Linked DNA regions of Homo sapiens: regions 2 and 3 are each linked to region 1. The links come from fine-mapping of genetic effects on gene expression. A gene starts in region 1. Each other region holds a variant in brackets. All regions are shown on one strand. Distances are from middle to middle.

Region 1 (9,036 bases):
CGCCGGGAACAAAGATTAGCCGGCCGAGATGAAAAATTACCCCGGACAGCGGCGCAGCCCCGCGCGGAGCCCCCTGCCCGCCACCACCGCCCGCGCCTTGGTGTCCCGCCCTGCCCGCGGCCCGCAGCTCATGCCCAGCCCATCCTCGCCCGGCGCCCGGCCTCCCGCGCTTCCTTCGAGCTTGGCGGCTAAGCCCTGTCGGCCTTTCCATCTCAGTCTGTCCATCCCATCCTGCCCATCTTTCCTTTGCGTCCCCACTCTTCTCTCTGGGGCCCTTCTCACGTCCCTCTTCTCGCATTGGCTCTTTGCGCCTCTCTTTGAATCTCTCTATTTTTGTCTTATCTCTCTGTCCTCTCTTATCTCTCTCCTGTCTCTGTCCATGTCTCTGTGGTTATCACCTTCTTTGCTTTTATTCCCATCTTTCTGACCCTTTCTGCCACTTTTTAGTTGTTTATTTCTGTCTGTCTCCAAGTGTCCCCAAGCTCCAGGCCTGTCCCCACCAGTGCCTCTTCCTCATTGTTTTTTTAAAATCTGTCTTTGGGCCTCCCATCTCTTTCCCCACTCCTTGTCTCTCTGGATCTTTCTGTCACTGAATCTCCATTTCTCTTCATCCACCCCACCCTGAGGGCCCCACATCTCCAGGCCTCATACCTCCTGCCCTCTCAAGGCTGTGAACCTGGCCACAGACCAGAGACTGGAAGGCTCCAGCCAGCTCTGGCCTGGCCAGCCCAGCTCCGCCCAGTAGGCAGGAGGCAGGTGGGGTGGGGAGGTGCAAGGCCTGGAACCCCCTTTCCAAGGAAACAAGACAGAAGTAGAAAAGGCCCTGTAGGCACCCAGGCCCTGCTCCTGTGCTTCAGACAAGCTCGCCCATGCCCCTCCCCAGTGAGGCCCAGGGCCTTGGGATCGGGTGGTCCCAATGAGGACACCTCATTAGAGCAGTTATTCAGCATGGCGCTGGCGACAGCAGATAAGCCTTATCAGCTCATCTCCCCTCCCACAGACAGACAGAAAGTGCCCGAGCAAATGGTACCCTAGAGCTCCACTGGCGGCCTGCCCTGCTGGTTAAGGAAGGTCTGGATGGTGTGTGATCCTGCAGGATGCACACCCCGCGTGTCACCCAGGACACACTTTTCTACAGTCCACAGAACAGGGCACTGCTGGCCACAGAAACATGCATTTCAAAGATGTAGTCATATACACAGTTGCCCACAACCCAGATACGCAGACACAAACACCCACCGCAACACACATCAATTCATACATGGAGCTGTACGTAGACATGCAGACACACTCGGATACATCTCCTCCTCCCCACCATCAGTTCAAAGATACAATGATATACACTGATACCTATGCTGTTAAAGACAGATGGACATGCACATAGCCAAATGCATGTTCAAATACACAAACACAAACACACGCCCCAACAGCCATCAATTAATAAAGAGAATTATACATGGATATCCAGACACATGCAACACACCACACACACACACCTACACATACACCAGTTCAAGGACACATGCAGATACCCAGGTACAAACTATTAAAGACACACACAGGCTAGGCGCAGTAGCTCACGCCTATAATCCCAGGACTTTGGGAGGCCGAGGTGGGAGGATTGCTTTAGTCCAGGAGTTTGGGACCAGTCTGGGCAACATAGTGAGACTGTGTTTCCACAAAAATAAAAATAAAAATAATTAGCCAGGCACGGTGGCACATGCCTGTGGTCCCAGATACTCAGGAGGCTGAGGTGGGAGGATGGCTTGAGTCTGGGAGGTTGAGGCTGCAGTAAGCGCTGATTGAACCGCTGCACTTCAGTCTGGGTAACAGATCAAGACCCTGTCTCAAGAAACAAAACAAAACAAAACAACAACAACAACAAAAATACACACAGTAACACATGCCTAGATACATGCACATACACACGCAAACACACACTCCAAAACACACCCATTCATAGACATGCCACACACTGCTACAGACACATGGGCAAACACCTGGAAATCCCCACCCCTCATTACATGAGTCTCTGACATGATGACCCCACAGACACAGAGCCAAAGGGACGCACAACCATTTCCACAGACACACTCTCTTGTGCCAAATTCCAGGGTCATGAAATAGCCACACTGTGACCTACTGCCCAATACACAAACTCTCAGGAACCCACAAGAAGAAATGAACATACTCATACACCCAGTTTTGCAGACACTCCTGTGTGCTCCTAAGTGCACACAGACACACCTGGGCACACAGGACATAGACTCTGAGCCACATGCATAGAACACACACACAATGCAATAGTCACCACCAGATTTGGAGAAAGACCTATGGACAGCAGGGGTCACAAAGACCAGGGGACAGAAACACTCCTCTGGGGCACACCTGGGCACGGGAGCACAGATTTCCCAGTCCTTCCAAGCCCAAGCACTTTCCCTCTGGGCTCAAGGTCCCCAGGCCACTTTCACTCTCCCTGATCTGCTGGAATGGGAATCAGGGGTGGGGGTGGGGGGACGCTGACTGGTTGAATCCCTTAGTAAGAACTTTGGCAGCACAAGGACTGGACTGTCTTTGCCCACAAACCCAGGGGCCTTCTGGGGATGAGGACTCCCACACTCACTTTCTCCCCCCCTCCTGACTCCCACTTCTGTGAACAAGCCCTCTGCACACTTCCTTGCTTCCCCCATTGTGAGAGTCTGCCCCAAGGAGATGGGCCAGGGGGACACCAGACAGTGGACTTCTAAAGTGCTCAGGGGGTCCCCCAGCGTTAGGAACTGGAGGGGGGGTGGGACAGGGAGAGGGGCTGCGCCTGCACTTAGCTAAACAAGCCTGGCAGTGAGGGCGTCCTGAGTGTGAGCCCGAGTGCCGAGTTGCATCTGATTGTATGGCCATGTGTGTCGGTGTGACCCAGGCCGTCTGTCTGAGGATGTCCTCGCGGCCACAGCTGTGTGCACATGTGCAGGGATGTGTGCGTGTCCGTGTGAGCACTCCTGGAAGTGGGTTGAAGACAGAGGAGCGGGCGTCTGTGTACCATTATCAGTGAGTGCGTGTGCTCACAGCTCCTGAGGGTCCCCGGGGAGAGTCTCAGTAAAGACGTGTCCCAAGCTTTCTGAGCAAGCATCCCTGAGGTCAGGGGCGCGCGTGTGCGCTCCGGAGAGGGTGGGAGCGGCCTGGAGTGTGGATGCACAGGGTGTGCGCGCCCTGAGTGCCTAGCGGCCCTTGGCCGGCCAGGCGGCTGGACCTGGTAGGCCGGGTGCAGAGCCCCGGGTACCCTCCTGCCCCCTGCGGCGCTCCCGCCCCCGTCGCCACCCCCTGCCCCCCCGCAAAGTGATGTCGAAATAAAAAGCCGCGTTGCGGCCGGTGGGGGAGAGAGAGGCAGCGTGAGCGCCAGGAAGGTAGCGAGGCCAGCGTCGCCCCGGGACTCGCTGCTCAAGTCTGTCTATTGCCTGCCGCCACATCCATCCTAGCAGGGCCCCGTCGCCCACCAGGCGGACAAAAGCGGTCCGCTGAACACCATGCGGCCGCTCGGCGTGCCGCCCAGGCTCTGCTGGTGAGCGCCGCCACCCCGCGCCCAGGTCCCGCGAGCCCGCCTGCCGCGCACCTCGCCCTGCTCCCAGCTCTACTCCAGGCCCCGTCCGCCCGGGGGCGCCGCCCACCGCGCCTCGCTCGGTGAGTTTCTTCCACTTCCACCTTCCCTGGGCCCGGCCCTTCCCGCCCCCGGCCCGGCCCGCCTGGCACCCGAATCGCTTGGTCCGTTTGCCCTGTGGCCCCTACCTTTGGGGCTCGCCTTGGCCCTGCCAGAGACCGGAAACCCTGGTTATAGGGACTTTAACCAGAGGGAGTATTTGGTTACCTGGGCACAGCAGGCCCGCCTCGGGCCTCTTGTCTTCCCATTTCTCGGAGCCACAGGCCACGAGACCCTGGCATTCCCAGAGCCTCGCAAAGCACCCCCGCCTCCCGGCCCCCGAACTGGGGCCTTTGTCTCGGCCGCCCCCAATCCCCAGGCCACCGCGGCGGATGCGTCCGAGCCGGGCCGCCGAGCGGCGGCTGCACCTGCCGGCTGGTCCCGTGCGCCGGCTTTTCGCGGCTTAACCCAGCTCGCTCCTGCTTGCGCCCCCGCGCGCTGCGCCCCGCAGCCCTTTATCCTGTGTGACTGGGGTGCGTGTGGGGGAGAGCGCCGGGTCTGGAAGTCTCCCCCCGCCCCAAGCCGGAGTCGGAATCCGTTTAGTGGGATTTCAATAAGAATGGGGCCGCCGCGGGCTTGAAGATCTGCCGCCGGTAGGCGTAGACGGCGTTCTGGATCTGTCTGAAAACGGGGCATTTAAAATTATTCTGTGGCGGCCAGGCTTGAACTCCGCGTTGCTCCAACCACGAGGGGAAAGGCCCCGCGTTCAGGGACCCCGTGTGTGGCGAACGCTCCTTTACCGGAAAACAAGGAAGGAAATTCGTTGTTTTGGAAAAAGCCTCCTCTCCCGAGGTCGGGAACATCTGGTGGTGAGCTCCAGGTCTACGCAGGCACCCCGTGCTAGGATTCGTTTATGAGCAGGCAGGATTCGAGAACCAGGTAGGGCCCGTGCGGCAGCCGAGGCGTCTGGGGAGCGTTTCCCAGCCGGGCTGACAAATTGCAGACAAATTGTGCCTAACGAAACGGATTTACCAGTTGTCAGGCCGCCGGCCCCGGCCGCTCCAAATAAACCGTGGCTGTTCGTGGAGGAGGGAGAAGCACGGCCCGATTGTCTCCGGGTCTCAGCAGGGTTCCGCGGGGAGCCTGCCAGGCTTGAAGGTAGGGGTCAGAAGCGATATAGAATCTCGGAGGCGCCTGGGTCCAGGGTGCCGAGACACCTAGGACGTGGGGGCCACAGACTCTACGATTCCCAAAGACACAGAACAGTAATGAGGTGGGAGAGCCTGCACTGATGCCGAGGGAGGGAGCCTTCTGCTTTAAGGGGCTGGAATTGAACCTCAAGGAGCAGGAGGGGCCGTTATAGCAGTAGTCCCCCCCTTGGGAACCCCCCCGGAGGGATGGCTGCTGGCCTGAGATCTAATGCCCCGGCTTTAAGGGAACTTCTGAACCCATCTGCTAAGGCACCCCACTTCCTCCCCGTACCCCTCAAGGTTTATTGCCAGTGTGGGGCTGGGAGGCCGCTGGGTTGCGAATTAAATTTCTCTATGGAAGGTAGTCCCTTAGCAAATGGGTTTCCTTGACACCCCACCCCCAGCCCCACACCGCGGGCCAATTAGCTGCCCATAAGGAAAAGGCGAGAAGAATTAGGTTACAAAGGGAGGGCAAACTTATGGTCCCAAAGGGGCCGCCTCGGATGAGCTAACTTTAAACAAAGGGCTCAGAGGGGGGGGGGGGCTGGACGGCCGGGGAGACCTGGGCATCTCTGTGTCCCCACCTGGCACCCGCGGCTTAGTAGAGGCCTGAGAAGCACTCTAGAACCGGGCACCAGATCTGCTACCTCCCCAGCTCCCAGGCAGAAGCACCCAGGTCAAATGGTGGCGATCGCCGCTGTGAGTTCTCGGGCCAAAAGGGTCCTTCGAAAATTCTGCTTCCTGGCTGACCTTCTCCAGTCCTCAGAGAAATCTTGTTCCCAAGTAAGGAAAGTGACAGCTTCTTAATGTGATCAAAGGCAGCGCCAGCATTTCCAACTATACTCCCGAACGAACAAAGTACTGAAAAAGGGAACGCGTCCCTCTAAAGGTGTTTTGGGGACCCCAAAGTTCCAGCCCATAAATTGGAGTAAATCTGCTCTCACCAGGCCTGGAACAGCGCCTCAAGACCCCAGCAGATTCTGGGGGCTGCGTTGACCCTCCCCGGGAGTTTGTTTGGGGCCCAAGGTGGGAGGACCATGTCTTCGGCCTAATGGGGAGGGGCCCGGTTGGTGTCCCTCGGTCTGCCTGGCACACACAGACATTGTCGAGCGCGGGTCCCTCTTTATTGGCCAGCTGGGCGCCCTGCTACTTGGCGTCGCATTTCTCTCTCCCAGGCGGGTTCGTTTCCGCCAGAGAATGCAGCAGTCCCGCATCCTACGCAGGACCTGCAACCGAGGTGGAGGCTTCGGTCAAGCCGGCTCCTGCCTGCGTTGTCGAGGAAGGCAACCCCAAGGCCTGAAAGGACCTGGCAGAACTCCTGTTTCCTTTTTTTCCTCTACACCGGATTGCGGGCAAGGAGGCTGGTTCGGGTCTCCCGAGGCCCCTGCTCAAGCACTCCTTAACCGTCCTGCTAAGCCCCTCTGTGCGGCGATTTTCTGAGCTGCCGAGCGGGGTAATTAAATCCCCTCCCTCGCTCCGCTCTGCGTCAGGCAGGCGGCAGCACAGGGCTGACGTTTGGGCAGGGGACTCAGCCAGGCTGGCCACCTCCACTACCGCAGTGGCCGGGACCCTGCCGCGGAGGGGTTAGACGCCGAGCTCGCTGCGCTGAAACTGGGAATACACACGGAACGGGGAGGGGGAGGGTAATTTTTACCGCGCCGGTGGGAGAAAAAGGCGAATTACCTGCTTTCCCGAGGGACGCGCGTAGCCACTTCCCTGAGAGCCGCGGCACCGATCGCGGCCGGGCGGGAAGCTTCCGCTCGGTCCTGGCGTTCACAGCCCAGCGGCCAGCTGCTGGTCTGCCTCCCGCGCTGGGTCCCAGGGTTCGCGCTCGAGCGGGGCAGCTTTGCCGGACACGGGGGATTATCCCTGGGGACGCGGTGTCTTTCAGAGGGTCTTGCTAGTCTCCGGAGACGCCAAATAGGCTCGAGCTCCGCGGCGATCTCATTTTACGAGTTGATGAAGAATCGTAAGCTAAAGGATGGGAAAAGTTGAGAGACAGACGGACGGAGAGACAGTGGGCCCCGGCGGGACCGCACGCGTTGAGGGGAACGCCAACCGGGAGGCACGGAGACTGCTCACCTGCCCGGCCTGGCCGCGGAGGCCCGGCGCCAAGGGCCTCGCGCTCGGCCTCCCGCCCCCTGCGCGGCTTCCCGGGCTGGCGCCGGCCTCCGCTCCCGCAGAGTGGAGTTCCGAGCAGACCGGGCTCCGCGCGCTCCAGCGTGGAGGGGAGCGGGAGGCTTAGCAGGCGGCTCGGGCAGGCGGGTCCCCCAAGGGCACGAGACGCGCTGGTTCCCAGCCCAATGGAGCTCTGCGCCCCCCAGCCCCGCGCTTTACCTGCGCTGAGGCCTCGGACAGACAAACGGACGCCAGACGCCTAGGCAGGAGGAGGCCTCAGCCTGAGCCCGCGGCCCCTTGGCGCTGCCCTGAACTGGCCTGGGAGGGGGTGACGGGGGCGCGCCCGCGGAGCTGGGCCCAGCCGGGCGCCCCCGGAGCCGAGGGGACCGAGGGCTTTCCTCCCTCCTCGGATTATTAAAAAGTTCATTTCCTGGCGAATCGGGTGACGTCAGGGGCTCGGCGTCGCGGTGGCGGGGCCGCCCGGCCGGAGAAGCCGCCTCCAGTTACCCAATTACCGACTGTCAATCCCGCCGCCCCTCCCCCACTCTCCCGGGGGTGGCCGGGACCCCAGCCCTCCTCCTGCCCCCGACCCACCTGGGGGCCCTCTGGACATCTACCCCGGGAGCCTCGGGCCCAACAGGGAAGAGGGCTGGAGGACGCTGTTGAGTCCCCCCAGTACTCGGCACCTGTCTAGGTCCCCCAAAATGCCTTTGTCCTGGACCTCCCTCCTCGGCCCGGGGCTCCCTTCGAGCCTCCGTCTCCCCAGTCTGTACAATGGGAGGGAGGAAGACTTGTGCGCCCGGCCCACACGAACCATAGAGCCGATCTCCGGGCTAGAAGTGAGTGGGGAGCACTTCCAGGTGACTTAGAAGACGGAGACCTCAGACCACCGCCTCCCCCTCACCAGAGGCCACCTCGGGGACCCCCCCCGGAGGAAAAAAAATGCCACCTCTTGCCCGGGGGCGTCTCCCTCCAGCTGGCGCCGGCGCCAGTCCGGGTCTCCACGGCCTCGCCCCAGGCAATTGGGCCCGTTGGCCTGCGAAGGCCACGCCCGGGGAGGGGTGCCCCCTCCCCCTTTCTGGAGCCACCGGCCGGGCCACCTCCACTGGGTCAAGCACAGCCCTGAGCGGCCGCGTGTCCGAGGCCCAGGTGCCCTCTAGAGCCCTGTAGTTCCTGCCCCTCTCTGCCCCTCTCGGCTCCTGCTGTTCCGCCGCTGTCGTCCGAACCATCCCAACCCCCAGTCCACCCAGACAGCGCCCGAGCTAGGGGAGGGAACGGTCTGGGTAGGTAACTGCGCTCGGACTGACCACGTTCAGCGGTGAAGGAGCGTGGCGGGGTTAGGGTCTCGGGGAGAGGCCATCCAGAGGGTGTGCGGCCCGGGCTCCTGGGGAGGGGGCAGTTGGTGGTTAGTTACTGCTAGGGAGGCCCAGAGCATCGAGGGATCCCGGAGTGTTCGCAAGAGGGGCTGCAGGGGTCGGGCCTTGGGGTGAGGGTCCCTTAGTGGTGGGGCGCGTTGGCAGCAGGGGCCGCCAGGAGCGCGCAGGGAGGGGGCCCGCCGGCTGAGGGGGGCCGGCCCGCGGGTCAGTCCCGGAGTCCAGCGGTTCGGGAATTGCGGACGCAGCCAATGGGAGGCGGAGGCTGGGAGGCGCGCGGCGTTGATTGGCTGGCTTGGGCTTCTTAGGCGTGCGCGGCCCCCGCTTCATGTCTGTGCAGGAGTCGGCAGCTGGCGCCAGGGCGGCCGGAGGATGCCGAGGGGCCGGAGCCGGGAGGGCCCGAGGCCGAGGCGCACTCTACCCCCAGCTCCTACCCTGTAAGCCCCGCCAGCCTCCGGACGTGCTGTCCCTGGGCCCGTCGCCCTCGGGGCTCCCGCCGGAACTCCTTCACTCTCAGAGGCCGAGTCCCTCCCCTCCCCACGGCTGCGTGTGTAAGTTTGGGGTTTGAGAGCCGGCTGGGGGCCTGGGGCGCTCCTAGCTTTGAGGGGACTCTGGGGGGACTTAGGGCGGGGGGCCAGGCTGCGGGCGACTGCTTTGGTGTGCTTTGTTGAGAGGTCCTGATTGTGCCGCTTAGTACTGCGCTCAGGGGGCTGCGTGTGCATGTTTT
Region 2 (10,520 bases), 110 kb before region 1:
CTCCTATTCATTCTCTAAAACCCACCCCCAGGGTTACTCCTGGGAAAGCTTAAGTGCTACTTTCCTTCTCCCTCTCATAGACATGGTTACTGCCTTGCTGGGGTCTCTGTGCACTGGGGTTACAATGTTGTGATGGTATCACCACATCTGTTTATATCCAGATTCATTACAAAATGTTTCTGTGTTTTAAAAATTGTAAAAGTGGTATGGGCCTATAGTCCCAGCTACTTGGGAGGCTGAGGAGGGAGGATCGCTCTAGCTCAGGAGTCTGAGGCAAGCCTGGGTGACGTAGCAAGACCCTGTTTGTAACAACAAAGAGAGATTTTAAAAATTGTAAAAGGCCAGGCGTGGTGGCTCATGCCTGTAATCCGAGCACTTTGGGAAGCTGAGGTGGGCAGATCGCTCAAGCTCAGGAGTTCGAGGCCAGCCTGCCGAACATGATGAAACCCCATCTGTACTAAAAATGTAAAAATTAGCTGGGCACGGAGTCGAGTACTTGTAGTCTCAGCTACTCAGGGGACTGAAGTGGGAGGATTACTTGAGCCTAGGAGGTTGAGGTTGCAGTGAGCTGAGATCACACCACTGCACTCCAGCCTGAGTGACAGAGTGAGCCCTTATCTCAAAAAAAAAAAAAAAAAAATCCCAATTGTAAGAGTTAACACATGCTCATACTAAGGATCCAGACAGATCAGAAGGGTATACAGAGGCAAGCAGAATCTCCGGCTTCCTACCAGCTTCTCTTCCAGAGAAACACAGTGTTAGCAATTTCTTGTGAATTCCTCTGGAAAGTCTCCATTCATTTACAGGATGTCACACTATATTGCTTTAATTATCCTTCTCTGTCCACTGCTCCATACCTAGTTCCCTGAGGACTGGCTAGGATCTGACTTAGGTAGGTGCTGGAATCAGTCCTGGGCCGGGCTGGAAAAGATGATCAGAAAATTTTGCATGGGATAGTTTTATTCCCTCCTGACACCAACTGACCAGATAGCATGGGATCTGGTGAACCTCCTTGCTCCTAATTGGAGGCTGCCATCTCCTAGCTGGCAGATGTATTTTCTTTTCCTTATAGAATATTATTATCATTACTGAAAGATGAATTCATTTTCAACATTTAAAACCTGAGAGATATTACTTAAAAAATATAATTTTCCCATCTGGCACAGAGGTTCATGCCTATAATCCCAGACCTTTGGGAGGCCGAGGTGGGAGGATCGCTTGAGCCCAGGAGTTCAGCCTGGCCAACAGAGGGAGACCTCATCTCTACAAAAAATTTTAATAATTAGCCAGGCATGCGGTATATGCCTGTAGTTCCAGCTATTTGTGAGGCCAAGGTGCAATTGCTTGAGCCCAGGAGGTCGAGGTTACAGTGAGCTATGTTTGTACCACTGCACTCTAGCCTGGGCAACAGAGCAAAACCGCCTCTTAAAAAAAAAAAAAAGAACAGTAGAATTTTCCAGATCTCTTGAAAAGGTTCAGAGGGTTCAACTGAGCACTCAGGTCTGTGCAGCCTCACCTCACTCCTTGTCCCCGAACCCCGGGGCCCCTAAGCCTGTGTCCCATGTCCTTGGCAACCTAATGAGGAAGATGGACCTGCATGAAAATAGTCCATGACAAGTGACTGCAGCAGCTGAGTTTCCCAGCAGAGGTGGGAGAATGATTGAGACGGACCCCAGGCTGGGGACTCTGCAGAAGCGTGAACCCCAGTGCTGTCCTGTGGGACACATACTCCTCCCGGTCCATGGGGTTCACACTCTGGATCCTCACTGTTCTGTTCACTGCAGAGAGGAGCAGGGGTGGGAAGTGGGTGGGCCTGTTTCAGGGTGGCCCCTGCTCAGCTCCAGGCATAGGGCCACGAAGGAATGTGGGCTCAGAGTGGCCAGAGCTTCCAAAGCAAAGCTGGAAATACAGCCTGAAAGAATGGACTTAAAGAAAATAAAAACCTGGTAACCCATGCAGCAAGCTCCGTATGCCAGTGGCCCTCAGTTTATGTCTCTGATTTGCTGGTACCCTCATTGCTTTAGAGAAAAGTTTCCCCCACCTAAGAAATAGGAAGTTCCTAATGGCAGAACCCAGGACAGCCCTTTCAATGGCTGCATTTTGCTTTATAGAAAACCCACCAGGCTGCCCCTGAGCTTCTGGTTGTCCCATGAGGAGAGGGAACTTCACTGGCCTGAGCCTGTCGACCGTGTGTGGTCCTGAATATGATGACCCCAGAGCAACCCCCAGCCTCCTCCTGCAGTCCTGCTGTGCTCTGCCAAGTCCAGTCCTGCCTGGCTGCAGAAACACAGGGACACTCTGCAGCACTGAGAGAAGTGCTCGCCAAGGAGAAACACATGTCTTCCTCCAGGGAAGCCACCTTGGGGGCTGGCAGGGCCAGGGACTGGAGCGCAGGGTTCTGGGCCAGGAGGTTTGGAGTCAGCTCTGGCTTTGGGGAGCTTCCAGGCTGAGGAGGCTCAGCAGGCAGCAGCTCCCTCCCACCCTCCTGCACAGCCAGGACCTGCCTGGGCATCAGACTGGCCCATGATACAAGCCTGCCTTCACACCTTGGCCTCTTCCCCCTCCAGGTGTCCAGAGCCCGGCTGGCGCAGGTGGGGCAGCCAGGCTGAGGCCGCAGGGCAAGGCCGGGCTGAGCTGTCCTTTTGCCTCTCTCCGGGTGAGGCCTCCTCTGTCCTTCCTTTCCCAGTGCCCCCCCGCCCTGCTCCTCTGCGGGGGTACAGCATGGGGAGGTTGTTGACAATTTGTGCATTAATCTCTCTGCCGGGGGCCTCCTGGTCAGGTGGTGCTTATCAGGGCCCTGCTCCTGTCAGATGGGCCTTCCGGAGCCCGTGGGCGAGGGGGGGTGGCAGAAGCCCCTGCTGCAGGGCCTGGAGGCTGCCTCACCATCCCCAGGCCTTCACATCCCCTTGCGCCCCCGCGGGCAGCCTGCTTTACCACATCAGGATACAGAACATTGCATGAATTCCGGTCTCAATGGAATTATTTCAGAATTCTGGTCAACCGCAAGCTCAGGGTATTTCACAAACTATCTATCACTGCTGTGCGGTGGGCAGAGTCTGGGCAGGGGGCAAGTAACGGATGCAGGGAGGCCCCGTCCACTGCCTGTGGGGGTGGCATGTCCCCCCCAGTGGCACCCCTGCCTCTGCAGACAGATGGCGTGTCCCCTGCCCCCCATCAGCAGGGGAGCTCAGGCCTGGAGTGGGGGCTTAGGAGAGGCAGCGGGAGGCCAGGCCCTGGCTTTGAGGGTACCTTCGAGAGGGCACCCAGGTTTGGGGCCCACTCCTACCAGCGTGGGGCCTTGGCAGGTGCTTGGAGTCTCAGTTGTTCCAGCTGTAAAATGGGATCATGATGCCCAGCCCCCATTAAGCAAATGTTCAGAGATCGGCAAGATGCGTGCCCTTGCCGATTCTCTTAGCATTTCAGGATTACTACAGGGCAGCATCTATGAAGTGCCTGGCTGAAAGTGGGTGCTCCATGACTGGGAGCTGTACCGTAATGAGAGCAATACTATGAATCATTCTCCTGATAACACCTCCCCACCCCTCTATACTTGAGATCATGCATAGAACTTGGGGGAAGGAGAGACCCTACCTCCAGGGTGGCAGACATCTGCACACTACCCGTCCTCTACTGTGGCGAAGGTGGCAACATCTCCAAGGAGCTCCTTCCTTCAATCATGGACGGTGCCTCAGAATCCTCCTCATCACAGTGCTGGACATCATTACCGACCCCTCAGAGTAGGCGCCAGAGGAAGCCGCTTAATTATTCTGGCCCCAACTCGTGAGAGTGGTCTGAATTGGCAGGGCAAGGGGTCCCCCCTCTGCTTCCTAAACTTTCCTGGAAGCTCCAGGTCCTTTCTCCAGAACCTGGCCCCAGCCACCTTTCCCAGAGGCAGGGATTGGAGGGCCAATCTCGTCTCTCCCTCTGCAGGCCTCCTGCTGACCATGAGTGATTAGGCCCCGCACTGGGAGGAAGGAGATCCGGGCCCCCAGGCTGGCACAGGCTCCAGTTCCCACAAGGGTCTAGGACTCCAGGCCGTCTGTTTAGCAAGACGCTCTTAGGCAGCATGGCCAAAGTTGGGCTGGAGCACCCGGGGGCTCTGCTGGCCCAAGCCAAACTCAGACTGCCCAGCCAGTGGGGATGGGCTCCAGGGCCTGAATCTGGGATAACAGCGCTGTCCCTCTTGGGCAGAGGGTAGGGGAGGACAAGGCCCTCGTCTAAACATTTTTCAAGCCCACTTTGGGACCCCCAGCTGGCTGAGGGTATCAACAAGAGTTGGGGAGGGAACTTTTGAAATCAGGAGGCCTGAGAAACCCAGGACTCCTGTCCTTGTGGTAAGGCTATGAGGGATACAGAGCTTGCGGCAATTCCCCAAGGCCATTTAAATCATTCTCCACCCCGATGATGGCTTTTTCTTGTCCCTTTAATGAGATGCTCCCCCTGCCCCCACAGCCATTTTGCAAGCTTTCCTGGGGTCCTGCGCACCTGTGGGCTGAGATCCAAGGCTGTGTGAATTCTTCCATAGACAGGACCAGAGTGCACAGCCATTCAGCCTGTGGTACCTGGGCTTCACCTGTTATTTTGGAGATTGCGTATATTGGTTATGTTTTTCTGCCTCATTCTTTTCTTTATTTTTAAACTTTTGGCCGGGCAGGGGAGCTCACATCCACAGTCCCAGCACTTTGGGAGGCCGAGGTGTGGGCAGATTGCTTGAGCTCAGGAGTTTGAGACTGGCCTGGGCAGCATGGCGAAACCCCGTCTATACAAAAATCAACCAGGCATGATGGCTTGTGCCTGTAATCCCAGCTACTTGGGAGGCTGAGGCAGGAGAATCGCTTGAACCTGGGAGGCAGAGGTTGCGGTGAGTTGAGATCGCGCCATTGCATTCCAGCCTGGGTGACAAGAGTGAAACTCCGTCTCAAAAAAAAAAAAAAAATTTAGCTGGGCGTGGTGGCAGGTGCCTGTAGTTCCAGCTACTCAGGAGGCTGAGGCAGGAGAATCGCTTGAACCTGGGAGTTGGAAGTTGTAGTGAGCCGAGATCGCACCATTGCACTACAGCCTGGGTGACAAGAGTGAAACTTCGTCTCAAAAAAAAAAAAAAAAAAAGCACTTTGGGAGGCCGAGGTGGGCAGATCACGAGGTCAGGAGATTGAGACCATCTGGCTAACATGGTGAAACCCTGTCTCTACTAAAAATACAAAAAATTAGCTGGGCGTGGTGGTAGGCACCTGTAGTCCCAGCTACTTGGGAGGCTGAGGCAGGAGAATGGCATGAACCTAGGAGGCGGAGCTTGCAGTGAGCCGAGATCGCGCCACTGCACTCCAGCCTGGGCGACAGAGCGAGACTC[A/C]GTCTCAAAAAAACCAAAAAAACAAAAAAACAAAAAACGGGCTGGGTGCGGTGGCTCACGCCTGTAATCTCAGCACTTTGGGAGGCTGAGGTGGGTGGATCATCTGAGGTCAGAAGTTCGAGACCAGCCTGGCCAACATGGTGAAACCCCATCTCTACTAAAAATACAAAAATTAGCCGGGTGGCAGTGGTGCGCGTCTGTAATCCCAGCTACTGAGGAGGCTGAGGCGGGAGAATTGCTTGAGCCTGGGAGGCAGAGGTTGTGGTGAGCTGAGATCATGCCACTGGGCTCACTCCAGTCGGGGTGACAGAATGAGACCCTGTCTCAAAAAAAAAAAAAAGAAGGACATTACAGTTTTTAAATGTTGCCTCTAAATTTGCCTGTGAACCAACTATTGGACAGAATTGATGAATTATTTTGTCAGCGATGATAATGTGTTTTGACTATACAGAAAAACTTTATTTTTTCACTTGTGCCCTGGAGTATATAAAGGTGTATGAAGACATGATGGCTGTGTTCTACTGAGAAATATGTCAGCATAAAACATAAAATGAATTAAGGTTTTCTTCTGCATAAAATGAATTAAGTTTAACCTCAAATCGGAGCTTCACATCAGCGTTCCAGAGATAAAGGTCATAAAGTTGAGGACTGGCTGAGAAAGAGGGTGGCTCTAGGGCAGGCCTGGGGAAGCCGAGGAGGTAAGGGACTCAGGGAGGGAGGGGCCCAGGCCCTGGCAGGGGGCAGCAGGTAGAGGAGGGTGGCTGGGGCTTCAGAAGGACTTGTGAGCTGGGTGCTGTTCTAAGCACTTCTGCACAAACTAACTCATTTCATCCAAGCAATGGCCCGAAGCGGTGGGAACTGTTATTGTGCCCATTTCAAAAATAAGGAAACTGGCCTGGCATGGTGGCTCACACCTGTGATCCCAGCACTTTAGGAGGCTGAGGTGGTCAGATCATCTGAGGTCAGGAGTTCAAGACCAACCTGGCCAACATGGTGAAACCCCATCTCTACTAAGAATACAAAAAAAATTAGCTGAATGTGGTGGTGGGCACCTGTAATCCCAGCTATTTGGGAGGCTAAGGCAGGAGGATCGCTTGAACCCTGGAAGCAGAGGTTGCAGTGAGCTGAGATTGCACCACTGCACTCCAGCCTGGGTGATAGAGTGAGACTCTGTCTCAAAAAAAAAAAAAAAGGAAACTGAGCCAAAAAGAGGTTAGGACCTTGCCACAGACACTGGCAGGGGACTGCAGGAGTGGGGACAGGAGCCCAGGAAGCCTGTCTTTGCTGTTAACCACCAGCTTCACCTGGCGGGACCACAGGTGGCCTGGAAGTTTTAAAGTTGCATTTATTTATTTATTTATTTATTTAGATGGAGTTTTGCTCTCGTTGCCCAGACTGGAGTGCAGTGGCGCGATCTCGGCTCACTGCAACCTCTGCCTCAAAATGATTCTCCTGCCTCAGCCTCCCTAGTAGCTGGGATTACAGGCGCCCACTACCGTGCCCACCTAATTTTTTTTTTTTTTTTTGTATTTTTAGTAGAGATGCGGTTTCACTATGTTGGCCAGGCTGGTCTCCAACTCCTGACCTCAGGTGATCCACCCACCTTGGCCTCCCAAAGTGCTGGGATTACAGGCGTGAACCATCACACCTGGCTTGCATTTATTTATTATTTTATTTTCTGAGTTAGAATCTCGCTCTGTTGCCCAAGCTGGAGTGCAGTGGCATGATAACAGCTCACTGCAGCCTCAACCTCCTGGGCTCAAGTAATCCTCCCATCTCAGCCCCCACCTCTCTGCTCCAGTAGCTGGGACTACAGGTGTGTGCCACCACACCCAGCTAAGTTTTTTTTAGAGATGGGGGTCTCACTATGTTGCCCAGGCTGGTCTTGAACTCCTGGACTCAAGTGATCCTCCTGCCTTGACTTCCCAAAATGTTGGGATTACAGGCGTGAGTCACTGCTCCCGGCCTGTATCTATTTATTCTGAGAAGTGATATAACATTGCAGAAAGTTTTAAAAATAACAAAACCAAAATGAACAAACAAAACATTTCCCCACAAAACCGCATTCCCACCATGATCATTTGGGTGTGTCCTTGCCCAGTGGACATTTTCATGAACATAACTTTTTCTTTTTTCTTCCCCTCCCTTTATCTGTTTTTTTTTTTTAATGACTTTCTAAGACTAGATTTCCAGAAATAAATGAACAGGGCAAGGGGGATAGTTTATAAAATATATTTTTAATAGTTTCTGGCAGCGATTATGTGAGGCCCAAACTGAAAGTAGGGGACTCTCATTTGTGGAGGTTCACAGATCAGAAGATGCATCTCAGATCACTTTCGGGAAGCTTCCGGGCAGTGCCGTTTGTCGGTGTCATCATCGTCCTTATCGCTGACAGCCATCTTCGCTGCATTATCTGCAGCCCTTTCGGGAAGTGCCAGGGGCTTGGTAGAGAGGACCCAGCCCCAGGCTCGGCCTGCCTTGGGGCAGATGCACGCCACAAGCATGGAGCCCACGGAAGAGCACCCTCAAACCCAGGCAGCCCTGTGTGCACGGCCTGGGGAGCAGGGCTGAGGGCCCTGAGACCTGAGATCGCAGACGCCAAGCCTCCTGGGGCCCCTGCTGTGTTGGGGGGGTGGACTGCGGAGGTGCCATTCTTAAATACCTGGCTGAACATTACCCCCCTGGGGAGGAGCAGTGCGCAGCCGTTACCACATTGAGAGGGAGCTTTGGCCCAGCGGTGCTGCACATAGTGAACAGGACAGGCGTCTGCAGATGGACTGCACGTGAACATTCTGCATGTCCACAGAATAAGACTTGAGGCCCTTCAATTTATTTTCTATTTTCCAATTTTTGATGGAGACATGGGTACCAAGGACTATGCCTCCACCACAAGCAGACCAACAGCATAAGGGCCCTTAAAAATGAAAACAGTAGGGTTGGGTGTGGTGGCTCACACCTGTAATCCTAGTACTTTGGGAGGCCTGAGATCAGAAGTTCGAGGCCAGCCTGGGCAACATGGTGAAACTCCATCTCTTCTAAAGTACAAAAAATTAGCTGGGCGTGGTGGCACGTGCCTGTGATCCCAGCTACTTGGGAGGCTGAGGCAGAAGAATCGCTTGAACCCGGGAGGCGGAGGTTAAAGTGAGCTGAGATCGCACCGCTGCATTCCAGCCTGGGTGAAAGAGCAAGACTCTGCCTCCAGAAAAGAAAGAAAACAGTAGTTCGGCTGCAGGTGGCGGGGACTGGGGCAAACTGATGCTCACATGTTTCACGCAAAGAGGTAGCTGCTGCTCAGCACTAGCTGACTGGGGATCTGTGAGAGTATGGGCCTAGGGCTGGCAGATCTACTTTTTTCCTAGAGAAATGTGAAATTTGGATTTTAAAAAGTGCAATCCTTTGATATTTATATGTTGACTCAGATGTGTTTGAATCACCATGTAGGCCTGACAAAGCTCGCTGGAGGGCTGCACCAGGCGTGGAGAAGCAGCTGGGACAGCAACATCTGTCACCGGTTGGTATGGCAAGGGCTGGGCACTCACAGGAGCCTGAGAAACACCAGTGTCCACCCTGCCCATCTTGGTTGTGGGGGTTGGAAGAAGCAGCAGACCCCTGCCCTCACCCATGAGTCTCAAGCATGGCCCTTGTGTTTTGGAGCAGGGGACCTAATGAACTGCTGGCTTTCTAGAATGTCTGCCCAGGGCCAAGGCCACCACCCCCTGCTGGGCATCCGGCCCCAGTGCCCAGGGCATGGAGGGGGCTGAGAGGACAGCACCAGCAGGGTGATGTTGTCTTCTCTCTCCAGGGGTTAGGCCCTGCAGCCAGGCAGACAGGCTCTAGCCTTAGCTCTGCACTCAATCCTGTGTGAGCTGAGGCTTCTGGTCCCGGAGGCCCTGCTTCTTCATCTCTAAAATTGGGTGCACGATGCCAGCCTCTTAATATTGCTCGAGGATGAGAGTAGCTTAGTGCAGAGGGCACTTAGCCTGGTGGCAGGCACGCAGTGGGTCTCCCTAAACACTACTCTCCCCCTTGCCACTCCTCAGTCCCAACTCGGTGAGCAGAGATCTCCCTGGCCAACCTCCTGGCTCAATGACCTTTGGCAGATGACTTACCCTCTGTGTGCCTCAGCTTTTCCATCTTTGGAGTGGGGGGACTCATAGCAACTACCTTGTCAGGAGTAATGGGACAATAGACCTAAGACCCTGCAAGCAGGACCGCTGCCTCTGCTCCTCAGTGCTTCCTCTGATTTCTGGTCTCAGTGAAGCCATTTGTATGTAGGGATTAGGTGTTAGACTTCAGCTTTCCTTTTCCTTCCTTCCTTCCTTCCTTCCTTCCTTCCTTCCTTCCTTCCTTCTTTCCTTCCTTCCTTCCTTCTCTCCTTCCTTCCTTCCTTCTCTCCTTCCTTCCTTCCTTCCTTCCTTCCTTCCTTCCTTCCTTCCTTCCTTCCTTCCTTCCTTCCTTCCTTTCTTTCTTTCTTTCTTTCTTTCTTTCTTTCTTTCTTTCTTTCTTTCTTTCTTTCTTTCTTTCTTTCTTTCCTCTTTCTCTCTCTCTCTGTCTCTCTCTCTTTCTCTTGACGGAGTTTCACTCTGTCACCCAGGCTAGAGTGCAGTGGCGTGATCTTGGCTCACCGCAACCTCTGCCTGCTGGACTCAAGCTATTCTCCTGCCTCAGCCTCCTGAGTAGCTGGGACTACAGGCACCCACCACCATGGCTGGCTAATTTTTGTATTTTTAGTAGAGATGGGGTTTCACCTTGTTGGCCAGGCTGGTCTTGAACTCCCAATCTCAGATGATCTGCCCACCTAGGATTCCAGACATGAGCTACTGTGCCTGGCATTTTTTTTTTTTTTTAGACAAGGTCTCACTCTGTCACCCAGGCTGGAGTGCAGTGGCACAATCTTGGCTCGCTGCAACCTCCACCTCCCAGGCTTAAGCAATCCTCCCACCTCAGCATCCCAAGTAGCTAGGACCACAGGTACACACCACCACACTGGCTAATTTTTGTATTTTTTGTAGAGACAGGGTTTTGCTATGCTGGCCAGGCTGTTCTCGAACTCCTGGGCTCAAGGTATCTGCCCACCTTGGCCTCCCAAAGTGTTGGGATTACAGGCATGAGCCACTGTGCCCCGCCCAGCTTTTCTTTTCCGTTTTTCTTTTCGTCTTCTATGACTTGGGGA
Region 3 (10,520 bases), 810 kb before region 1:
TGAGGACTCACAGGCCTGATCTCAACCTCAAAACAACCCCAATCTTGAAAAAGGGTGTTCAAGAGCCAGATTTACTGATGCAGTTGCTGAGACTCTGGGAGGCCAACAGCCAGGTCAAGATTCAAACCTGCTCTATGTAGCTCCAAAGCCTGTATTTTTCTGCCCTGATGCTCAGCTCCTACAGTGGGCTGGGGAGTCCAGGATCCACCATTTATTTACTGTGTCTCCTGGACTTGGCTTCAAGAAGCCTCAATTCCAGTTGAACATTGAAGGCACTTAACACTGTGAGGCTAAGGAGAAGGGCTTTCTAGAGGAGGTGACCCTGGTACAGCAAGGAGGCAAAGGACTTGTGTGCAAGACAGCCCAGGCTTGAGCTCTCCTCTGCAGCCCAGTGTGGATTAGTATTAAATATTAGGAGGGGGCAGGTGGGAGCAGGCCCCTGCTAGAAGCTACCATAGTGGGCCTATCTCCACTATGATCTTTGGGTCTGGGGCAAGCAAGATTGTTCTCCCCAAGTCTCAGTTTCCTCATACGTAAATGGTGCTAAGAAAGACTTAAAAATCATTCATCTGCTAACTAGGCAGAGTCTGATCACACTGTCTCTGGCCAAGACCTCCAGCCTCTGCACCCCCAATCCCTTGAATCCCCCTGGGGTTAGCACCCTATCTGTCGCCAGGGCTACTCTGCTTGCGATGTTGCCTCCTCCCTGTGAGCCTCAACATCTCACCTCTGCCTTCTGGGTCCCCCAATCTGCCTTCTCCCTGGCCCCAGGACAGCTCTGCAGACACTGCAAAGGCCCCATCCCAGGGTGTGTAGCCTTAGTGACTGGTAGAAAGGGATCTCCACTCAGTCAATGTCCCTAGACCAACCTGGTCTAAAGCTGTCTGTCTGCCAGGGCAGGGCTTGGAGCTGAGCACAGGGACTGTTGGGAAGGGTCTGAGCTCTTAGCACAAGGGGTACTGCTATCTCACTGTCCCAGTCATCAGATCTTGGGTGATGTGGCCCAGGGCATATTAGCTCTTCCAGCAGCTCCACCAGTTATGAGGAGGCAAAGAAGTCCTGGCTCTCCCCACAGCAACTGCTGTTAGGGCTACTCACACTTGCAAGCTGGGGGCGGTGATACTTGCAGAGGTATGGGAGAACAAAACATCTCATATGCCAAGGGGTTAGTCCACAGTCATTCATTCAACACCTACTGGATTGGGCCCCTTCTCTTGGACTGTGCCAAGCTAGGGGTGAATGGGAGCAGAGGCAGCGATGGGACTCAGTCACTTGCAGGAGAAGGACAGATAAACCAGAAAGTTCCTGGTAGGGACATTCCAGACTGGAAGCCCCACAGTAGCACAGGCTGCTGGGTTTGGGGAATGGTGAAAGGTGTAGTGGTAAAAGCAGTGGGGGCAATGTGACAGGGCATGAGGCCGGAGAAGTCAGCAGGGCTTCAGGTTCCCATGTCAACTCAATGGAGAAGGAAAACCAGGGAACTGGCTTGCACAATTGTAGGGGCTGATTAAGCAGTTTCTGTAAGGCTGTATCTCCAAGACTGACGGAGCTTGAAGTCCACAGGCAGGTGGTCAGGAGGGGAACACCATGAGCACATGAGCATACTGAAACCCCACTAGCACAGGGAGGACCCGTGACAACAGACTGAAACCTGTGTCTATTCTTTTTGTCTCTGACCTCACTGATGAAGGTAGAAGCTGGAACCCTTAGCCACAGAGCTAGACGTGCACACACCTGCCCCAGGAGTCAGAAAAAACTGAAGGAGAGTCCGGGAAAAGCACAGCAATTGCAGGTCCAGGTGCTGCTTCATGCCAATCAGGTGAGTCAGCAGATCAGCAGTCCAAATGGTTGCTTCCTTCCAAATCTGATGAGAATCTGCCTCCTGGCCCACCCTGATGGAAAATATACTAGTCAGGGAGTTCTGGAAAATATGGTTCAGCCAGGCCAAGTTGGCATGTTACAAAGCCCTCCCAATTCCACAGTTAAAAATGGGTGTGGGGGGTGGTGAGGAGGGCTTCCAGACCAGGTAGAGCATTCTAGCCAACTGGAAGACACAGACTCCACCTGAAGAGGGGCAGTGACTACCCAGCTCTTACTGATTGTTTTCAGAGCTTCCCAGTTTTCCAAATAATGTTAGAAGAAGCACCTCCTGAAAGTTTCCAAGTCCCTCTCTGGAGGCTGGGAGTGGTCTGGCCATGCAGGGAGGAATGGGGTAGGGTACCTCAGTGCAGCAGTGGTCCTACATGGGGCCTGGTTGTCGGAGGCACCTCCTCAAAATTTTTGAAAGTGGAAACTAAACTATTTTCTGAAATTTCCCATTATTTTAAAATATGGACTTAAAAAACACCCCATACCCATTAGAATGGCTACTATGAAAAAACAGGGCTGGGCATTGTGACTTACACCTATAATCCCAGCACTTTGGGAGGCCAAGGTGGGAGGATCACTAGAGCCCAGGAGTTCAAGACCAGCCTAGGTAATATAACGAGACTCCCATCTCTACAAAAAATACAAAAATTAGCTGGGCATGGTGGTGTGTGCCTTTAATCCCAGCTACTCAGGAGGCTGAGGTGGGAGAATCGCTTGAGCCCAGGAGATGGAGACTGCAGTGAGCCAAGATCGAGCCACTGCACTCCAGCCTGGGCAACAGAGCCAGACCCTGTCTCAAAAAACAAAAAACAAGCAAACAAACAAACAAAAAAAAACACAGAACATAGAAAGTGTTGGCAAGGATGTGGGGAAACTGGAACACTTTTGCACTGTTGGAAGGAATGTAAAATGGTCCAACCGCTATGGAAAACAGCATGGCAGTTTCTCAAAAAATTAAATATAATTACTATGCAATCCAGCAATTCCACTCATGGGTAAATGCCCCAAAGACTGGAAAGCAGTGATGAGAAGAGCACATCCATGTTCATAGTAGCACTATTCACAATAGCCAAGAGGTGGAAGCAGCCCAAGGGTCCATTGACAGATAAGTAGATTTTTAAATATGTGATCTACCCATACAATGGAATATTATTTGGCCTTAAAAAGGAAGGAAATTCTGACCCATGCTACAACATGGATGAATCTTGAGAACATTATGCTGAGTGAAAATAGCCAGTGACAAAAAGACAAACACTGCATGATTCCACTTAAATGAGGTATCTAGAGTAGTCAAATTCAGAGATAGAAAGTAGAATGGTGGTTATCAAGGGCTGAGGGGAGGGAAATATGGGGAGTTGTTTAACTTTCAGTTTTGCAAGATGAAAAAGGTTCAGAGATTGGTTGCACAACAATGTGAATACAATTAACAGTATTGAATGTATATTTTAAAATGTTTGGCCAGGCACAGTGGCTCACGCCTGTAATCCCAGTACTTTGGGAGGCCGAGGCGGGCAGATCACCTGAGCTCAGGAGTTTGAGACCAGCCTGGCCAACATGGGGCCAACAAACCCCATCTCTACTAAAAATACAAAAATTATCTGAGCATAGTGGTGGGCACCTGTAGCCCCAGCTACTCGGGAGGCTGAGGCAGAAGAATCACTTGAACTCGGGAGGTGGAGGTTGCAGTGAGCTGAGATCTTGCCACTGCACTCCAGCCTTGGGGGCAGAGCAAGACCTCTGTCTCAAAAAAAAAAAAAAAAAAAAAAAAAAAAAAAGGCTAAGATGGCAGATTTTATGTCACATGCATTTTACCAGAATTAAAAAATAAATATATATTGTATGGGCCAAACAAAATCACTGTGTGAGCTAAATGTGGCCTGAAGTCCCCCAGCTTTGAGATTTCACAACTGGATCTTCTATGAGGACACTTCTGGCCACTTCACAAGACAAGAAGCCCCAAATGATGATGTCCTGAAGGGGACTCAACCAAAGGTAGCCATACACTAGTGAAAGCCAGAGACCTATCTGCCAGTGCTGAGTGTCTACACCTGGGTAACAACCTCTCCATAGAGGGTTGTCATTAGGACCCCAGAGCCTTGCCCAGTGCACCTTATAAATATGCCCTCCCAGAGGCTCCTTTTCTTGCTCGCCTCTTCTTGGCTCTCCCAACCCCTATCCTTCTTCTGGCTGCCTTGGTTAGGGACTGTGAAAGACTCTGCCTTTTACAACTTTCTGTGGTAGGACAGGGGTTTGGATGGTGCGGTGGTTCACACCTTTAATCCCAGCACTTTGGGAAGCCAAGGTGGGAGGATTGCTTGAGCCCAGGAGTCTGAGATCAGCCTGGACAACATAGTGAGACTCCCATCTCTACAAAAAATATGAAAATTAGCCGGGTGTGGTGGCATGCGTCTGTAGTCCCAGCTACTTGGGAGGCTGAGATGGGAGAATCACTTGAGCCCAGGAGGCAGAGGTTGCAGTGAGCCAAGATCGTGCCACTGCACTCCAACCTGGGTGACAGAGCAAGACCTTGTTTCGGAAAAAAAAAAAAGTTCTGTATGTACTGAGGACCCTCTCAGGCAGACAGTACTCAGAGGAGCCTGAGCCAAAGCTCCTATCCCCAGGGAATGAGGTTCAACCCTTCCCATCACTTGTTCCTCACTCTGGTTGAGAAGAAAGAGGCCCAGGTAAGAATGGGGAGCTCCTACAGGCCCAGGTAGGAATCTAGGAGTCTGAGACCTCCCTTACTGCCTCTGGTTCCCCCCACGACACCCACCCTCCAGACTCTTCTTGGCTACAAGCAAGATCTCATCCAACTTCCCCAAGCTGATACACTACTCCCAAGCCAGGAGTCCCGTGGACTTGTCCTTAACTTACCTATGTCAAGCCATATGCGCTTGCCTGGGTCTGTTTCCACCTCTATACAAAGCAGGTTTGGCTTTAGGCATACAAGCCTTGCATGAGACAATGGATCAAGATGGACTTGCAGACAGGACTGAGGGGCAGGCACCTGTATCCATCAGGACCAGAAATCCCAGGGACCCTCTGCCTCCTCTAAGGCTACAGTGCAGGGAAGCATACCCTTAAGACTTAGAGCCAAGCCTGGTCACTGCTAGAGGGTGAAAGGGAGGGAGGTGGGAAGGACTGCTATCTGGGAGCCAAGCAGAGGGGCCAGATGGCCACATCCTAGGCCTGCCCCCACCTGCGCCAGAGATTGGTAGAGGGCCTGGCTCCACCTGGCCACACCTAGACAGGCAGGTGGGAGCTACCCTGTTTGGTCCAGATTTGACTAAGAACAAAAGACGGGAAGATGTTCCATTGCTCTAGTAAGCAGGATTAAATGTTGGCAAGGTGGGAAAATGAAGATTCTTATGCCCCTGAAATA[T/C]GTGAAAATTTGGAGAGCAATTTGGCAATACCTAGTAAAGCTGATGACTTAGAGAAAAAGAAGTTGCAGAATGCCCAAGATGATACCATTTATGTAAACCTGAAACTCATAAAATGATACTGTATGCTCTCAGACATAAGGATTTGCTTTTTTTTTTTTTTTTTTCTGAGACAGAGTCTCACTCAGCTGCCCAGGCTGGAGTGCAGTGGCGTGATCTTGGCTCACTACAACCACCGTCTCCCGGGTTCAAGCGATTCTCTTATCTCAGTCTCCCAAGTAGCTGGAATTACAGGCACCCAACGTCATGCCCGGCTAATTTTTGTATTTTAGTAGAGACAGGGTTTCACCATGTTGGCCAGGCTGGTCCTGAACTCCTGGCCTCAGGTGATCCACCTGCCTTGGCCTCCCAAAGTGCTAGGATTACAGGAGTGAGCCACCTCGCCCGGCCAGGATTTGCTTCTAACATCACGTTTATATGAAAGTATAAAAACTTGAATGAAAAGGAAACAAGCCCCTGCAGGCATTATATTCTTTCATGTTAAAATGAAAAGACCTCACCAAACTAATTTGCAACCATGAGAAACAGTGGGGAGATGATAATGAAAAACAAAGGGAATTTCATTTTTGTCATTTATTAACCTGGAAGCAAATATGACAAAACAGTCATACTAGTAAGTCATCTGAATTTTTTAAATCTCTTAATAAAACAACCAAATCCCACGCAAATCAGTCCACAAGGGAGGCCCCCGCCTCCACAGTGCAGGGTGACTGAGTGTACAACTACGGGCCAACCCCCGCCTCTCAACCGGAAGGGAGGGCACTCAAAAGAGGAATTTAGAGAAAAGGCGGAGAGGGCGGACCTCGGGAAAGGGTCTGGGCGGGAGCCCCACCTGGCTCCCCACCCCTCCCGAAACCAGGGGAAAAGCCTGTGGCGTGGCGCTGCTGTCTCCCATTAGCAGTTACAGGGCCGAGGCTTCCCGCTGATTGGTGGAAATTCCGATCTTCTGATCCCTGATTTGCATAGAGACTGGGGCCTGCACCCCCGCCCCCCACCAGCAGCAATCGGCCAACGCCAACGGTGCTGCGCCAGGAGCGTTCTGGGCTCGGCGCCGCCCAGTCCTCCTGGTCATCTCGGAAGCTGTTTTCTTCCAGCTGCTTGGGACAGCTTTTGTGAATGCCTCCCTTAGGGATGTTCGAAAGAGGAGTGGCCCGACACTGCTAGAAACTGGTCCTTTCCTTCCCACCTGTGGTAAGGATAGTTTCTGCTACGGCAAGCACTCAAACTCAGGCTGGTTTGAAGCTAAAGGATTCAGACGACTTCCAAGTATCAAGAATGAAAGAAAAAGAAACATAATAAGGAGCCCACCACCAAGACTTGTAGTTATTTCCTCAGAAAGCCCCCATGCCCCATTTGTGACAAAATCCATTCCTGAAGACTGATTCTAGAAGAAACCAAGTAAGATCTAGAACTTTCCCCACCAGCATCACTTTCCAAAATGTAGGCAGAAGTTTACCAAATACAATTTATTCAGGAAAAAAATAAATTTTAAGAACTTATTTTTATTTTATTTTAGAACTTAAAAATAAATTTTTAAGAACTAAAAAAGTGAAAGAGCCCAGTGGCTGAGCAGAAAACAGCTTACTACAAGGAGTACCAGATCAGGGCAGAGACTTCCCAGCTGGGTAAGGCATGCTTTGAGGGAAGACTCCACCAGCCCTGCCAGGAAAGGGCAGCAGGCGCAGTGCCCCTATGGGGCCCACATGGCTGGTAACAGCAGCAGGACACCTCTTCCAAAGCTGTCCACCAGCCCCACTAGGGGCTCCTACTCATGGCAAAAAAGACTACATGAGCCCACAACTGTCAACTAACACAGTGCCACCTCCTCCCAAAGCAAACACATATACATACAATGTTAAGAACCTATTATCAGAACAGCAGTGCAGCAGACCCTGGCCTTGGTCTCTGAAAGTCCTGTGTCACTGGCTGTAAGGACGCTTGGCCACAGGTTCCTCCTCCTTCTCCCGCTTCAGCCATTGCTCTAGGAGTCCTGCAGTGCCTCTCTTGGTGGGGAGTGGACTCTTCTGCAGGAACTGACTGGACCACTGGGGAACATCTGACTCTTCCTTTTGAGGTGTTTTTGAGTCTTCCTTTTTGGGTGACTTTGTGGCCAACCACTGCAACATCCTCTGGCTACTGCCACTTGCCCTGAGCTCCTACAAGAAAGAGGAAAAAGCTCAAACCATACAGCTCAAGCTTTTGGGAAAAGGCCAAGTCCAAGGGAAGAAACAGGGGAAGAGGCATTAGGTACTTACCCAGGCTTGGAAAATGTTACTAAGGGCCAGCTGGGGCCCACCAGTCAAGAGTGGAAAGAGAGGAGTGTGCTCTAAGGGGCAGGAAAGTAGATCTTAGAGAAGGTTTCACAGAGGATTGTGTGGGACCAGCCAGAGAAGAGAGCTGAAAGGCATTCCAAATGTGCAGAGAATGAAGCATTCTCAGGGAAAAGAATGTAATTCAGCATGACCCAGGGGGAGTGTTGGAAAACGAGACTGGAGAGATACAGAAGAATTTCTAACAGCCACTGTGATAAGGCTAAATTGTTTCCTCTTTGTGCAGACAATCTGTACAACCTCTTCTTGACTGTCACTACTCCCTTCTGCTTCCTTTACATCACACCCCAATCCTGAACTGAAAGGTTCTGAATTAGCACAATGCCACCTCTCCAGAATGTGACATCTTTTGGAGTAAACACCATGGCAGGGCTAGGTACAGTGGTGCATGCCTGTAATCCCAGCACTTTGGGAGGCTGAGGTGGGAAGATCGCTTGAGCCCAGGAGTTTGAGACCAGCCTAGGAAACATAGGAAGACCCCATCTCTATAAAAAATTTAAAAAAATGAGCCAGGCATGGTGGTGTACGCTTGTAGTCCCAGCTACCTGGGAGGCTGAGGTGGGAGGATCATTTGAGCCCAGGAGTTCGAGGCTGCAGTGAACTATGATCATGCCACTGCAGTCTAACCTGGGCAACAGAGCATGACCCTGTCTCTAAAAAAGAAAAAGGAAAAAAAAAAAGACCATGGCAGAAATGGGCAGCGTCTAGTCCAAAATGAATACAGGTTGAGCATCCTAACCCTGAAAATCCAAGATCCAAAATGCTCCAAAATCCTAAACTTTTTAAGTGCTTACATGACTTTGAAAGGAAATGCTTGTTGGTACATTTCAGATTTAGGATATTCGGCTAGGAAGTATATAATGCAAATATTCCAAAATTTGAAAAAATTCAAAATCTAAAACACTTCTGTTCCCAAGCATTTTGGATAGGGATATTCAACCTGTATATAGAATTAGTTTTAGAGTTATCTAATTTTTAAAAAGTGCCACGGTTGCAGGAGTTTATCAGAATCAAAACAAAAGAAAAAAAGATGACACTGTGGGTATGGAAAAAACTTTAAGAAAAATAGAGAGGGGGACAGCTGTTCTTACAATCATCCTTAACACGGCATTCTAAAATGTCTATTCTTGGAACATTCCAAGTATGTCCTATTTTAAGTCCCTCCATGCCACCTAAAAACAATCACTACTCCTAAATCCTTACCCCCAAATGTCAGTGGGGGCCAGCTTTTTGCTCTGGAACTTCTCTCCCCACTGCAGGCCTTCTGTTTGTTTGCCTTCCCTTCCTAAAATACACCCTCTGGATCCTTGCTGATTCTAAGAAGTTAAGGTTCATGGTAGGAATGCTCTCAAATCCTCCTGAAGGAGACTAAGGACTGGAGCTCCTGCAACTTGTAGTTCGGAAAGCAAAGATACAGAAAAGAGACACCAAAAATCATGGTTGGGGACGGAGAAACAATATGGTCAAGGGCTCCTTTGTCTTTTTCACCATCACTGTCTAGATTAGGAGTCCTCAAATGTGGTTTATCAGACTCATCAAAGAAGCTTTTTTTTTTTTCCTTTTTGTGGAGAACGGGGTCTCACTATATTGCCCAGGCAGGTCTGGAACTCCTCAGGTAAAGCTACCCTCCCACCTCTGCCTTCTAAGTGCTGGCATTACAGGCATGAGCCACTGCACCCAGCTGAAGCTTCTTTTTTTTGAAACGCAGTCTCGCCCTGTCACCAAGCTGGAGTGCAGTGGCCCAATCTAGGCTCACTGCAACCTCCACCTCCCAGGTTCAAGTGATTCTCCTGCCTCAGCCTCCCAAGTAGCTGGGATCACTACTTGGGACGGGCCACCACACCCAGCTAATTTTTGTATTTTTAGTAGAGACGGGGTTTCACCATATTGGCCAGGATGGTCTCGATCTGTTGACCTCGTGATCCACTTGCCTCGGCCTCCCAAAGTGCTGGGATTACAGGCGTGAGCCACTGCGCCCAGCCTGAAGCTTCTTAATTATACAAAAGTCCAAGCCTAGCTCTAAATGTTGATTCAGGATGTCTAGATAGGGTCTAGCATTTACATTTTGAAAGAGTTCTTCTCCTGGGGACTCTGAGTCACAGCCAGGTTTGAGAATTGCTGCTCTACACTACCTTGCTGTGTACAAGGAGTATGAGAGCTTTTGATGGTCCAAATTAAAGGGCTGATCATAAAAGGCCACATCCTGAAAGAAAGAGAACACTGACAGAAGACAGAAAGCTCAAAAAGGACTGTACCAGTCACAGGCCCCTACCTTTTTGACCACCAAGTCGACAGGAGCCAGACACTCAGGAGTGTTGTTTCGCGAGTTGTTCACCACAGAAGAGACTGCATGGAAGGTGATGTTCTCTGTTGGGTGGATTAATTTCAGAGCTTCCTGAGTTGAGACTTCACCAAAGTCAAGCCATTTAGAAACTGCCTCCTCTCCATCTAATATGGCAGGCATCCTGGCCAGGGAAGTTAAGACAATGGTTGGGAGAGGTAGCATGAGAATAAGGAGAGAAGGGAGAGAGACTTGAGTCAGCTGATACCTCAAATATCACAAGGGGAGCTTGCCCTCCCTCTGCGCCTCACATGCTGATTGCTGCCATGTGTTCCCTGAGCACAGGGTGACAGGGCACCAGATTCAACACCTGGAGAGCCATGTTATAAAGTTTCATGGCAAAGACAGTGAAGAGTACTAACTGGTCTAGTGTACTCCAGTGTCCACTCTAGTAAATTGGTAAACTTTCTATGACACCCCAGCCTAGAATGAAGGGAAAATAGATCTTGAAAACTTGTCTATCAACAGCAATCTCAAGCCTCACCACCTCTGAAAGACTTACAGTAAGAAAATTGTGAACAAAAGGAAGCCATGCGTCAG

The links. PIP is the estimated chance that this variant, and not a neighbour inherited with it, causes the effect.
Region 2: its variant is the best candidate, but not a certain one, in a credible set for the expression of GATA2 in whole blood (INTERVAL, PIP 0.56).
Region 3: its variant is the best candidate, but not a certain one, in a credible set for the expression of GATA2 in lung (TOPMed, PIP 0.56).

Annotation. Positions count from the first base shown.
Region 1 is chr3:128,487,535-128,496,570 of GRCh38, reverse strand. GATA2 (GATA binding protein 2) reads left to right here and starts at 3,370. Exons shown (of 6, transcript NM_032638.5): 1 at 3,370-3,672. It overlaps GATA2-AS1 (GATA2 antisense RNA 1), which reads right to left and starts at 7,368. Exons shown (of 3, transcript NR_125398.1): 1 at 6,901-7,368; 2 at 6,502-6,792. RefSeq lists silencers at 3,571-3,660, 8,545-8,744, enhancers at 5,432-6,241, 6,242-7,053, 7,054-7,864, 8,832-9,036 and a cis regulatory region at 7,119-8,900.
Region 2 is chr3:128,596,330-128,606,849 of GRCh38, reverse strand. No RefSeq gene overlaps it. Among named protein-coding and RNA genes, the nearest start is that of LINC01565, 26 kb to the right of the region's middle. RefSeq lists an enhancer at 3,543-4,042. The variant A/C (reference allele first, on the strand shown) is at 5,348.
Region 3 is chr3:129,301,534-129,312,053 of GRCh38, reverse strand. HMCES (5-hydroxymethylcytosine binding, ES cell specific) reads right to left here. Exons shown (of 7, transcript NM_020187.3): 6 at 9,912-10,104; 7 at 5,868-7,465. The coding sequence ends at 7,229. Among named protein-coding and RNA genes, the nearest start is that of H1-10-AS1, 9.5 kb to the left of the region's middle. RefSeq lists enhancers at 1,732-1,791, 5,912-6,496 and a cis regulatory region at 5,932-6,432. The variant T/C (reference allele first, on the strand shown) is at 5,252.